Linked DNA regions of Homo sapiens. The protein of the gene in region 2 interacts with the protein of the main gene of each other region in a pairwise test. Each region holds a gene or a part of one and is shown on either strand. Other genes may lie near its edges.

What was found.
Region 1: the proteins of GPR25 (region 2) and IKBIP interact in binary tests that used the Homo sapiens proteins (3 or more experiments, as listed by UniProt).
Region 3: the proteins of GPR25 (region 2) and CNIH4 interact in binary tests that used the Homo sapiens proteins (3 or more experiments, as listed by UniProt).

The regions. Positions count from the first base shown.
Region 1 is NC_000012.12:98,631,109-98,634,858, reverse strand, and holds part of IKBIP (inhibitor of nuclear factor kappa-B kinase-interacting protein), read left to right. Parts: intron 1-445; coding exon 446-563; intron 564-3,750. UniProt on the Homo sapiens protein: Target of p53/TP53 with pro-apoptotic function.
Region 2 is NC_000001.11:200,870,820-200,874,569, forward strand, and holds GPR25 (probable G-protein coupled receptor 25), read left to right. Parts: upstream 1-2,161; 5' UTR 2,162-2,218; coding exon 2,219-3,304; 3' UTR 3,305-3,359; downstream 3,360-3,750. UniProt on the Homo sapiens protein: Orphan receptor.
Region 3 is NC_000001.11:224,355,168-224,358,917, forward strand, and holds the start of CNIH4 (protein cornichon homolog 4), read left to right. Parts: upstream 1-1,711; 5' UTR 1,712-1,757; coding exon 1,758-1,826; exon of another isoform or gene 1,827-1,876; intron 1,877-1,878; exon of another isoform or gene 1,879-1,901; intron 1,902-3,750. UniProt on the Homo sapiens protein: Involved in G protein-coupled receptors (GPCRs) trafficking from the endoplasmic reticulum to the cell surface; it promotes the exit of GPCRs from the early secretory pathway, likely through interaction with the COPII machinery.

The DNA.
Region 1 (3,750 bases), on a different chromosome or scaffold from region 2:
AGGCGCCTGTAGTCGTAGCTACTCGGGAGGCTGAGGCAGGAGAATAGCGTGAACCCAGGAGGCGGAGCTTGCAGTGAGCCTAGATCGCGCCACTGCACTCCAGCCTGGGCGACAGAGTGAGACTCCATCTCAAAAAAAAAAAAAAAAAGGCTAAAGACCACCTTTGGCAACATAGCGAGATGGACAGTCCTAGCTATTTGGGAGGTTGAAGTAAGAGGATCACTTGAGCCCAGGAGTTCAAGGCTGCAGTGAGCTATGATTGTGACACTGCATTCCAGCCTGGGTGACAGAGTGAGACCCTGTGTGAAAAAAAAAAAAAAAAAACCTACAGCTACCCATACCAGAATTTATGTTGTTCTTAACAGAAGTGGGTATAATTCTCCTTTGAAATTCGGATTTAAATGGATATGAATTGGAGAATAGTGATTTTTCTTTTCTTTTCCAGGTTTGTATTTCAGCAGTCAGAAAAATTTGCAAAGGTGGAAAACCAATACCAGTTACTGAAACTAGAAACCAATGAATTCCAACAACTTCAAAGTAAAATCAGTTTAATTTCAGAAAAGGTAATCATTAATTGGCTTATCTGGGACGGTTTTCCCATTTTACTACCCCACTATCATTTCTCTATCCCAGCTCAGAACTTCTTTCTTCCTGCCTTTTAGACCATCACTATTTTAACTCTCACTGATCTTCCTACCTCTTGACATTCTCCCTCTGAGCCATTTTGACTCAGATTGCATTTTGAGGGGCAAGGATTTTTTAATATGATAATTTCTAGTATTGAAAAAGACCAATTTGTTCATATTAGCATGATGTTAATTTTCTACTTAAGTGTCAGGTATCTAGAGCATTGAAAATATGGTTGATCATGTCTACAGCCATACCACCCTGAATGCGCTCGATCTCATCTGAAAATATGGTTGATCTTTGGACATAAAATTAGAATATGAATAGCACTTATTGGGAAAAGATCTATCCATTTTTTCCCTTACTTTTTGCTTTTTAAGGATATATGTACATGCATTTAAGAATGGCTAGCCTAGGCTGGGAGTAGTGGCTCATGCCTTTAATCCCAGCACTGTGGGAGGCTGAGCCAGGCAAATCACTTGAGGTCAGGAGTTAGGAGACCAGCCTGGCCAACATGGTGAAACCCCATCTCTAGTAAAAATACAAAAATTAGCTGGGCGTGGTGCACACGCCTGTAATCCCAGCTACTCGGGGGGCTGAGACAGAAGAATCTCTTGAACCTGGGAGGTGGAGGTTGCAGTGAGCCAAGATCACACCACTGCACTGTAGCCTGGGCTATAGAGCGAGGATCCGTCTCAAAAAAAAAAAAAAAAAAAAAAAAGAATTAAAAAAAAAAGAACGGCTAGCCTAAAAGTAACTATTTGTCCTGTAGCCAAATAAGAATTCCAATGAAAATTAAAATAATACCATGTCTATATTGTGTTCCTTCAAGTTGCTGATTTCTACCAGATGCGTTATTACTGTGATTCTTAGAAATGTGAGACAAATAAACATTTTTGTAACTCCCACACCTCTCAGGAGAAAGTCAAAGTCAGCTGTGATCAATAAGGCATCATGTAGGCCTATTCTGGGTACCAGGGACCAAGCTATCATTGGGAAATATGGCTTTTTGTTCATTTATTCATTCACTAAACCTTTGCTCATGTCACAAGGTAAGCAAGGACCTATGCTTGGCACCAGGGTGGGTAAGGATGTTGTAAAAATAGAGATGAAATGGAGCATCTAAGTCCCTGCAGCCCCATGCACAGGATGAGCATATAATCCTCCAGAAGAGAAAAGCCATGGAGGAAAATTAAGTATCCCTCACAAATGCCAGGGGATTCCATGGATGGTGAGTGTAAGGGATTTGGGGAAGGAGCTGCAAAGGAGTTGGTATTTTCACATAGGGCTCAAATTGGAATCTGAGCCAGGCGTAGTGGCTCATGCCTGTAATCCCAGCACTTTGGGAGGCCAAGGCAGGCGGATCACCTTGAGGTCAGGAGTTCGAGACCAGATTGGCCAACATGGCGAAACCCTGTCTCTACTAAAAATACAAAAATATTAGCTGAGCATGGTGGTTCATGCCTGTAATCCCAGCTACTTGGGAGGCTGATGTATGAGAATTGCTTGAACCTGGGAGGCAGAGGTTTCAGAAGTGAGCTGAGATCATACCACTGCACTCCAGCCTGGGCAACAGAGTGAGACTCTGTCCCAAAAAAAAAAAAAAAAAAATTGGAATCTGGTTGTAGCTGTTGGGGGAACTCTAACATACCATTAGAAGAAATCCCAGGGGCAAGAAACTTCATATATATATATATATATATATATATATATATATATTTTTTTTTTTTTTTTTTTTTTTTTTTTTTCAGATAGAGTCTCTCCCTGTCATCCCAGCTCTCACTCTGTCATCCAGGCTGGAGTGCAGTGTTGGAATAACAGCTCAACCTCCCAGGCTCAAGCACTCCTCCCAACTCAGCCTCCCAAGTAACTGGGACTAACAGGCACGCCACTGCACCCAGCTAATTTTTTTTTCTTTAATTTTTTGGAGAGACGGGGTCTTGCTACATTGCCCAGGCTGGTATCAAACTCCTGGCCTCAAATGACCTTTCTGCCTCTGCCTCCCAAAGAATTGATATTACAAGTGTGAGCCACTGTGCCTTGCCAAAACTTCACATATTTAATTAAAAGCTATTGAAGGCCGGACGCGGTGGCTCACGCCTGTAATCCCAGCACACTGGGAGGCCGAAGCAGGCAGATCACGAGGTCAGGAGTTTGAGATCAGCCTGGCCAACATGGTGAAACCCCATCTCTACTAAAAATACAAAAATTAGCTGGGCGTGGTGGCGGGCGCCTGTAATCCCAGCTACTCGGGAGGCTGAGGCAGGAGAATCACTTGAACCTGGGAGGTGGAGATTGCAGTGAGCTGAGATCACGCCATTGTGCTCCAGCCTGGGCAACAGAGTGAGACTCCATCTCAATAAATAAATAAATATAAATAAAAGCTATTGAAAACTTATTTTGAACAAGATTTCTCCTTTTTTTTTTTCTTTTTTTTTTTGTGGGGGAGGTCAGGGGTGGTACAGAGTTTCACTTTTCTCATCCAGGCTGGAGTACAATGGCTCGATCTTGTCTCACTGCAACCTCCGCCTCCCGGGTTCAAGTGATTCTCCTGCCTCAGCCTCCCGAGTAGCTGGGACTACAGGTGTGTACCACCACACCCGTCTAATTTTTGTATTTTTGGTAGAGACGGGGTTTCACCATGTTGGCCAGGCTGGGCACGGTGGTTCACACCTGTAATCCCAGCACTTTGAGGGGCCGAGGTGGGTGGATCACCTGAGGTCAGGAGTTCAAGACCAGCCTGGCCAACATGATGAAACCCCATCTCTACTAAAAACACAAAAATTAGCTGGGCATGGTAGCGTGTGTCTGTAGTCCCAGCTACTCAGGAGGCTGAGGCAGGAGAATCGCTTAAACCGGGGAGGCAGAGGTCACAGTGAGCCGAGATTGCACCACTGCACTCCAGCCTGGGCAACAAAGTGAGACTCCATCTCAAAAAAAAAGCTTTTGAAGCAGATTTTTAAAATATCATTATAGAATCCAAAAAATATTCAGTCTTGGCCAGGCGTGGTGGCTCACACCTGTAATCCCAGCACTTTGGGAGGCCAAGGCAGGTGGATCACCTGAGGTCAGAAGTTCAGGACCAGCCTGACCAACATGGAAAAACCCCATCTCTACTAAAAG
Region 2 (3,750 bases):
ATCCTTCCTGGGGATCTCCGTGTGCCAGAGGGACCCTGAGCGAGGGTGACCTTATGTCCCAGTTTGCCCAAAATAGTCCTGGTTTACGGCCCAGGTTAATTCTGATAGTGCCCCTTTCACTCTCAGAAACATCCTGGTTAGATGATAAATTATTTCATGACCCCACTTCAACATCAAACTGAACACATACACACATGTGCCTCTCTGTGTTCTTGGCAGTTAAGGGGACAGCGTCCATATAGTCCCTAAGCAGAGAAACCCCAGGCTTATCTTTGACTCCTCTTTGTGAGACCTATGATGTTACAATTATCTCTTGAATATACCCTCCCATTTCTGTCCCCACTGCTCATGATCTATTTCAGACACAAATAATTACAACCTACTATGGGGTCTCCCTGGCTTGAGCCTCTCCCTTCTCCATAGTTCTGCCAGCGATCTTTTCAAAACACAGATCGATGCCTCCTGGCTCCCCATGACCTATAGATTGAAATCCAAATCCCCTCATGATCCTTTCCTGCTTCATCTCCTGCCCCCACCTTCCTACCCTGGGCTCTGGCAGACTGCTTGTCCCCTGAAAAGCCCACATTCCTACTCATTTTGGTATACTTGTTCCCTTTACTCCCTCCTCCGAGTCTGACCCTTTCTTCTCTTTTCTGCTGCTCTTATTTGACTTTCAGCTCCTTCCTGGGACTGATCTCAAGTGTCATCTCCTCGAAGGCCTTTTCTGATTCAGCCCTCCCGTCAAAAATAATCACTCCCCCTCCACTAAACCCTAAGAGGGCTTGGTTTTTAACATTTACTACAATTTGGCCCCTGCATAAGATTACATAAGATTCTGCTTATGTAACCATCTCTCCTGCCTATGCAACAAACTGCGAAGGCCAAGAATGGCATCTCTTGCAGTGCCTGAAACAGTGCCTGCTTCATGGAGGAGTTCATTGTTAACAAGTCTTAATCGAACAAAATTGATAATCCACCTCAAATTTTCCACACCGGGTTGCCCGGCACATCAGCCACTCATACCTGGGAACACTGGGGACAGACTCAGAGGGCACTGTGACATCAGTTCTACCACAATATCTTGTGGAAGGGATATCTGCTAAGAAGAATTCAGATGTAAGTGGCTGCATGCCTCCTTCAGGAGAAAGAGCAAGCTTTCCCTCACCCATCCTCTCCTCCTTAGGTCCCACTGCCTCCTCAGGGTCAGACTTCATTCCCCCTCGTCTTTATGAATCCTCCCCTTACTCTCAGTTTCTCAGTTCAGAAGGGATCTTGCTGCCTCCAAGCTCCTGACTCATAATTTAGGACAACTAATCTGGTGTTTCATTAGGTGTCATCTTTTGAACTGAGCTTACATCTGTGTCTGGCTTGACAGGTTTTTTAGGATAGGAGAAGACAGGGAAGAGGCAGATGTGAATCCCAGGTTTCACCCCTTTCCAGCAGGATGATCTGACTACACCCCTTCCTCGCTGCCTTAAAACCCTTTCGCGTGGCTTCATGAGGACCTGACTGGGTCAGAGAAGCCACTCATAGGGTGAAGACATGAGCCCCACATCTCAGGACGCTAACAACTGCTTGACTGCCCAGGGCGGGCTCCCCCACCCACCCAGATCTGCTGTGTCCCGGCAGTGGAGTCTTTCCTAGGGAACAGGTGGATTTGGGGTGGGGCGTGCCTTAGGCCCCATACTCATAAAATCCCGGGGCTCTGTCTTCTCACCTCTAAAACAGAGAAGACAGCAGCCGGTGGGTGCAGGTGGGAAGGGGTGAAGTGGAGGCTGAGAAGAGGTTAGGGCTCTCGGGCACCCACCACCTCTTGCAACGCGACCCTGAGACAGTGGGGCAAGTATCCCGATTTCACGAACAAAGAAACTGAGCAACTAATAGAGGAATGGGCCACGCTCCTACTGGGAGGCCGGGCAGGTCTCCCAGCCCTGAAGACTTTTCCTCCCAAGATTTAGATGTGAAGCCCCTTTTGCCTGTCCCTGCCCTTACCCCTCGGGTCAGCCCCAAATCGGAGGCCACCATCTCTCTCACAGAAGCCTGCCCCTCCCACCCCATCCCCTCCTCCCTCCCCTCTTTCCTGCCCACCCATTTGCCTCCGGCTTGGGTGGCAGGAAGGGAGGTGCAGGGCCGGGCGTGAAGAGCAAACCCCCTCCTGCTCAGAGCTGCTGCCGCCTGCGCCCAGGGCTGCACTCCGCGCAGGCCTCATAGCCAGGCCATGGCCCCCACAGAGCCCTGGAGCCCCAGCCCGGGGTCAGCGCCCTGGGACTACTCGGGGTTGGACGGCCTGGAGGAGCTGGAGCTGTGTCCGGCCGGGGACCTGCCCTACGGCTACGTCTACATCCCCGCGCTCTACCTGGCGGCCTTCGCCGTGGGCCTGCTGGGCAACGCCTTTGTGGTGTGGCTGCTGGCCGGGCGGCGGGGCCCGCGGCGGCTGGTGGATACCTTCGTGCTGCACCTGGCGGCAGCTGACCTGGGCTTCGTGCTCACGCTGCCGCTGTGGGCCGCGGCGGCGGCGCTAGGCGGCCGCTGGCCGTTCGGCGATGGCCTCTGCAAGCTCAGCAGCTTCGCGCTGGCGGGCACGCGCTGCGCGGGCGCGCTGCTGCTGGCGGGCATGAGCGTGGACCGCTACCTGGCCGTGGTGAAGCTGCTCGAGGCGAGGCCACTGCGCACCCCGCGCTGCGCGCTGGCCTCGTGCTGCGGCGTCTGGGCCGTGGCGCTGCTGGCCGGCCTGCCCTCCCTGGTCTACCGGGGGTTGCAGCCCCTGCCTGGGGGCCAGGACAGCCAGTGCGGCGAGGAGCCCTCCCACGCCTTCCAGGGCCTCAGCTTGCTGCTGCTGCTGCTGACCTTCGTGCTGCCCCTGGTCGTCACCCTCTTCTGCTACTGCCGCATCTCGCGCCGCCTGCGACGGCCGCCGCACGTGGGTCGGGCCCGGAGGAACTCGCTGCGCATCATCTTCGCCATCGAGAGCACGTTTGTGGGCTCCTGGCTGCCCTTCAGCGCCCTGCGGGCCGTCTTCCACCTGGCGCGTCTGGGGGCGCTGCCGCTGCCGTGCCCCCTGCTGCTGGCGCTGCGCTGGGGCCTCACCATTGCCACCTGCCTGGCCTTCGTCAACAGCTGCGCCAACCCGCTCATCTACCTCCTGCTGGACCGCTCATTCCGAGCCCGGGCGCTGGACGGGGCCTGCGGGCGCACCGGCCGCCTGGCGCGAAGGATCAGCTCAGCCTCCTCGCTCTCCAGGGACGACAGTTCCGTGTTCCGTTGCCGGGCCCAGGCCGCGAACACTGCCTCGGCCTCCTGGTAGCTGCCCCGGGCCGCTGGAGGTGGGCGGCAGCGGAGCATCGAGAGGAGGCCAGAGGTCCCGGAGGGGACTGAGCTCCCCAGACGCGCCTGTTCTGGCGGCAGCAAGCTGCTCGGGCCGGCATCGCATTTCCTCGCGCGCTGCCTGGACTCCCAAGGCCTCCTCCATCGGTTTCCCCGGAACCTCAGAACAATTGAACTCCCCTAAACCAGGCTCCTGTGACTAGCTGTTCCCTCTCAGCCTGCAGGGTACCTGAGCTAATTTTGTCCAGTCCAAGATAGGTGCTATGAGATGTAGCAGACAGCAACTCGGAGACCCGCAGATTCACCAAGTAGACAGAAGGGAAGTGGGTTTCCTTCTCTGTCCCATCGGGAAGAGAACCCACCAGAATATCTAACCCAGACCCCCAAATGCCATTCTGATTTCTGGCTGTGCTTTCTCCCGTCTCC
Region 3 (3,750 bases), about 23 Mb from region 2:
TATCTGGGTGTGGTGGCATGCACCTGTAATCTCAGCTACTCCGGAGGCTGAGGCAGGAGAATCGCTTGAACTTGGGAGGTGGAGGTTGCAGAGAGCTGAAATGGCGCCACTGCACTCCAGCCTGGGTGACAGAGTGAACTTCATCTCAGAAAAACTAAAACAACAACCACAAAAAAGATGGAAGAGGCATTACATTTGTGGGTGGAAGACATGAACAGAAAACATGTGCCAATTGATGGCAACGTGTTGAGCCAGAAAGTATTGAGCCTATACAAAGACTTCAGTGAGGGATTCCCTAAAACGAGTGATACCAAGCCACTTACTGCAAGTAATGGATAGTTACATGAATGTAAGAATAGATTTGGACTGAAAAATATAAAAATCACTGGAGAGGCTGCATCTGTCTCTTCATCTTATCACATAGGCATTTTATCATCATACATCATCTCAAAAAGAAGGGTCAGTACAATAAGATATTTTGAGACAGAAAGACCACATTTACATAACTTTTATTACAGTATAATTGTTCTATCTTATTATTACTTGTTAATCTCCTACTGTGCCTGATCTATAAATTAAGCTTTATCATAGGTATGTATATATAGGAAAAAACATAGTACACATAAGGTTTGGTACTATCCATCGTGTCAGGCATCCACTTGGGGGTCTTGGAAAGTAGCCCCTGCAAATACAACTGTATTTGTTAAATGAATGAATGGATGAGTAAGACATCGTATTCACTTCTTAAAGATCTTAAAATCTAGAGAGGAGAGAAACATTGCTGTAGGAGAGGATAAACAAAGGACTGTGAAATCTCTGGAGAAATTGAAATCAGGAAGGGAAGGGCAAATCGCAAAAGTCAAGCCAGGAGCATTAAGTTAGATTTGTGCTTTGAGATGAAAACCCCTTACAAATCCTAAGTCAGGGAATGCAATGGTTCTAGAGCCAACTCTAAAGAAAATTTCACACATGGGAAATACATCCTACTGGATATCCGGATTAAAAGCGTTCAGTAGAGACTGGTGCAGTGGCTCAGGCCTGTAATTCCAGCACTGTGGGAGACTGAGGCAGGCAGATCGCTTGAGCCGAGGAATTCGAGACCAGCCTGGGCAACATGGCAAAAACCCCATCTCTATTAAAAATACAAAAAATTAGCCAGGCGTGGTGGTACATTCCTGTAATCCCAGGTACTCAGGAGGCGGAGGTGGGAGGATCACCTGAGGCCAGGAGGTAGAGGCTGCAGTGAGCTGTGACCATGCCACTGCACTCCAGCCTGGGCGACAGAGTGAGACCCTGTCTCAAAAAATAAAATAAAATGAGAAATAATAAAATAAAATTAGCTGGGCATGTCGGGAGGCTGAGGTGGAAGGATTGCTTGAGCCCAGGAATTCGAGGTCATAGTGAGCTCTATCACGCCACTGCACTCCAGCCTGGACGACAGAGCAAGACCCCAGCTCTTTAAAAGAAAAGCGTTGAGTAAATACTTGTTGATTAATTCCATTTCTGGAAATAATCGGATTTATGAAAGAGGCCCTGCCCACCTCTTTGATATGGACTTGTACTAATGAACTACAATTCCCAGCATGCGTCAGAATTAGGGCCGTAGAGTTTTTTAAAATATGGACTACAACTCCCGGCATGCCACACCAGGATTCGAGGACCACACGCCTCAGCCAGCCCCGGCAAGGGCCTATCAGGGGTGGGTCGGGGCATCCGAGCGGGTTTGACGGAAGGAGCGGCGGCGACGGAGGAGGAGGATGGAGGCGGTGGTGTTCGTCTTCTCTCTCCTCGATTGTTGCGCGCTCATCTTCCTCTCGGTCTACTTCGTATCCTTGCCTGAGGCAGGCGAACGCCTTGCCGGGGGACACGGCTGAGGGTGGGCCAGTTGGGCACCCGGGCAGGTGTGTGGGACTAGGGAGGCGCCCGGCGGCGGGCGTGGGCTCCCTGGGAGCTGGCCTGGCCGGGGCGGTGGCGCGGGCCCCGGAGCGGGTAGGAGAGGCTGGCTGCCCTACCCGACGGGCCCTGCTGCCCTGCACGCACTTGCCCTGCCTGGGTTGCCGGCCGCCCCTCACTCGGGTCCGAGTGGGCCTCTCCGGGCGCGCCCCGTCTCGGCCTGCCCGCCTGCTCTCCGCTCGTCCCCGCGGCGCCCGGACCAGCCCTGCCTGAGCCACGGCCGCCCTCGGGAGAGAAGCGTCGCTGTTTTTCTGGGAGAGGCCCTGCGCCGTGCTCTTCGTCGGATATTGGGGGTCCCAAGGGCGGTCGCTTGCGACAGTCGGGTGCCGGGATAAGTGCGGGCCATTTGCCTCCTCCTGTTCCCCACGCAACACCCCCGGCACCCGCCCCTTTGTTCTGGCGGGTGTTAGTACTTGCAGGGACCTTTCACATCCAGGAGTTGACTCATTCGCCAAAGGAGCGAAGTTGCTTCCTTCACTGTGCCGTTTTGTAGTGAGTGTTGGAAAGGAGTTGTTTTAACAACTGTCTACAAAGTGATTATTTTGGTTGTCCCCGGTGGTTGCAGATCTGTAAATTCAATAACTACATCTGCTGTAGTTCCCAATCGTTTCTCAGCTTTTAAATTTTTCTATCGATCCATGTTAAAACTTAAGTTGCAGTATTCAAACTGTTTTCCAGAGCAATAAATGGTGGTTGAATTTAGCACTGCAGTAGCCATGTCGGCTACAACTCTTCCCATCTCTTGACAAAGCATCTAGGCTTAGTTGTTGCCCAATGTTGTATTGCACCATCCAGGTTTAAGTAATTAAATATAAGAAAAAACGTATGAGGAACTCCGCATTTCAGCTTCCTTTCTTGGAAATCACATGTACCTGTTTCTGATCGGATTAAACCATTTGTTTGCTAGAGCATGCGGGCTTTAGGATAGTCGTACAGAGTATATGTTCAGTGCAGCTTCATTTTTCATTGTGGACTGGCATCCTGTTGTAGTGGAAAGGGACAAAATTTGGAATCAGATTTCCTGGTCAGCTAGCTCTTTGCTTGCACATTATTTCCCTAAGCCTCAGTTTTCTGATCTTTAAAATAGGAAATGTTTATTTCCTAGATATGCACAATGAGAATGGTGCTGAGCACCCTAGCACAGTGCCTGCCCCATAGCTAATGTTCAGTAAATATTGCTCTGCCTTCGTGTCCCCACCCTCCCCAATTGAGCAGCAGTTTTTACTTTGATGATATCTAACGACAAGATTTCTGAGTTTTAGTAGGTTTGGGGAGCTGATTGAAAGGGCAGCATCACTTGCCTAAGTTTTGATGACCTCTATGCCCCTCTTGTGATATAAGGAACTAGAGCAAGCTTGTCCAACCCACGGCCCACGGGCTGCATGTGGTCCAGGACAGCTTTGAATGTGGCCCAACACAAATTTGTAAACTTTCTTAAAACATTATGATTCTTTTTTGGTGATTTTTTTTTAAGTTCATCAGCTATCATTAGTATTAGTGTATTTTATGTGTGGCCCAAGGCAATTCTTCTTCCAGTGTGGCCCAGGGAAGCCAAAAGATTGGACACCCCTGAACTAGAGCTTATGCTCAGAAATGTAGCTGGGTTTTTTCTTTTTGCAGTTTGGAAAACCAGGCTTGATAATTTTAAATAGCCCTGGTTTACACCAATTTATGCATTTAGAGAAATGGTAGGTGGAATGTTTGACTTAGACATTACATTAAAATACATTCGGGGGGTGTTTTGATGAAATTCAGCATATTCTGTATTTTAGAATAGTTGCACTAACTTAGGGATAG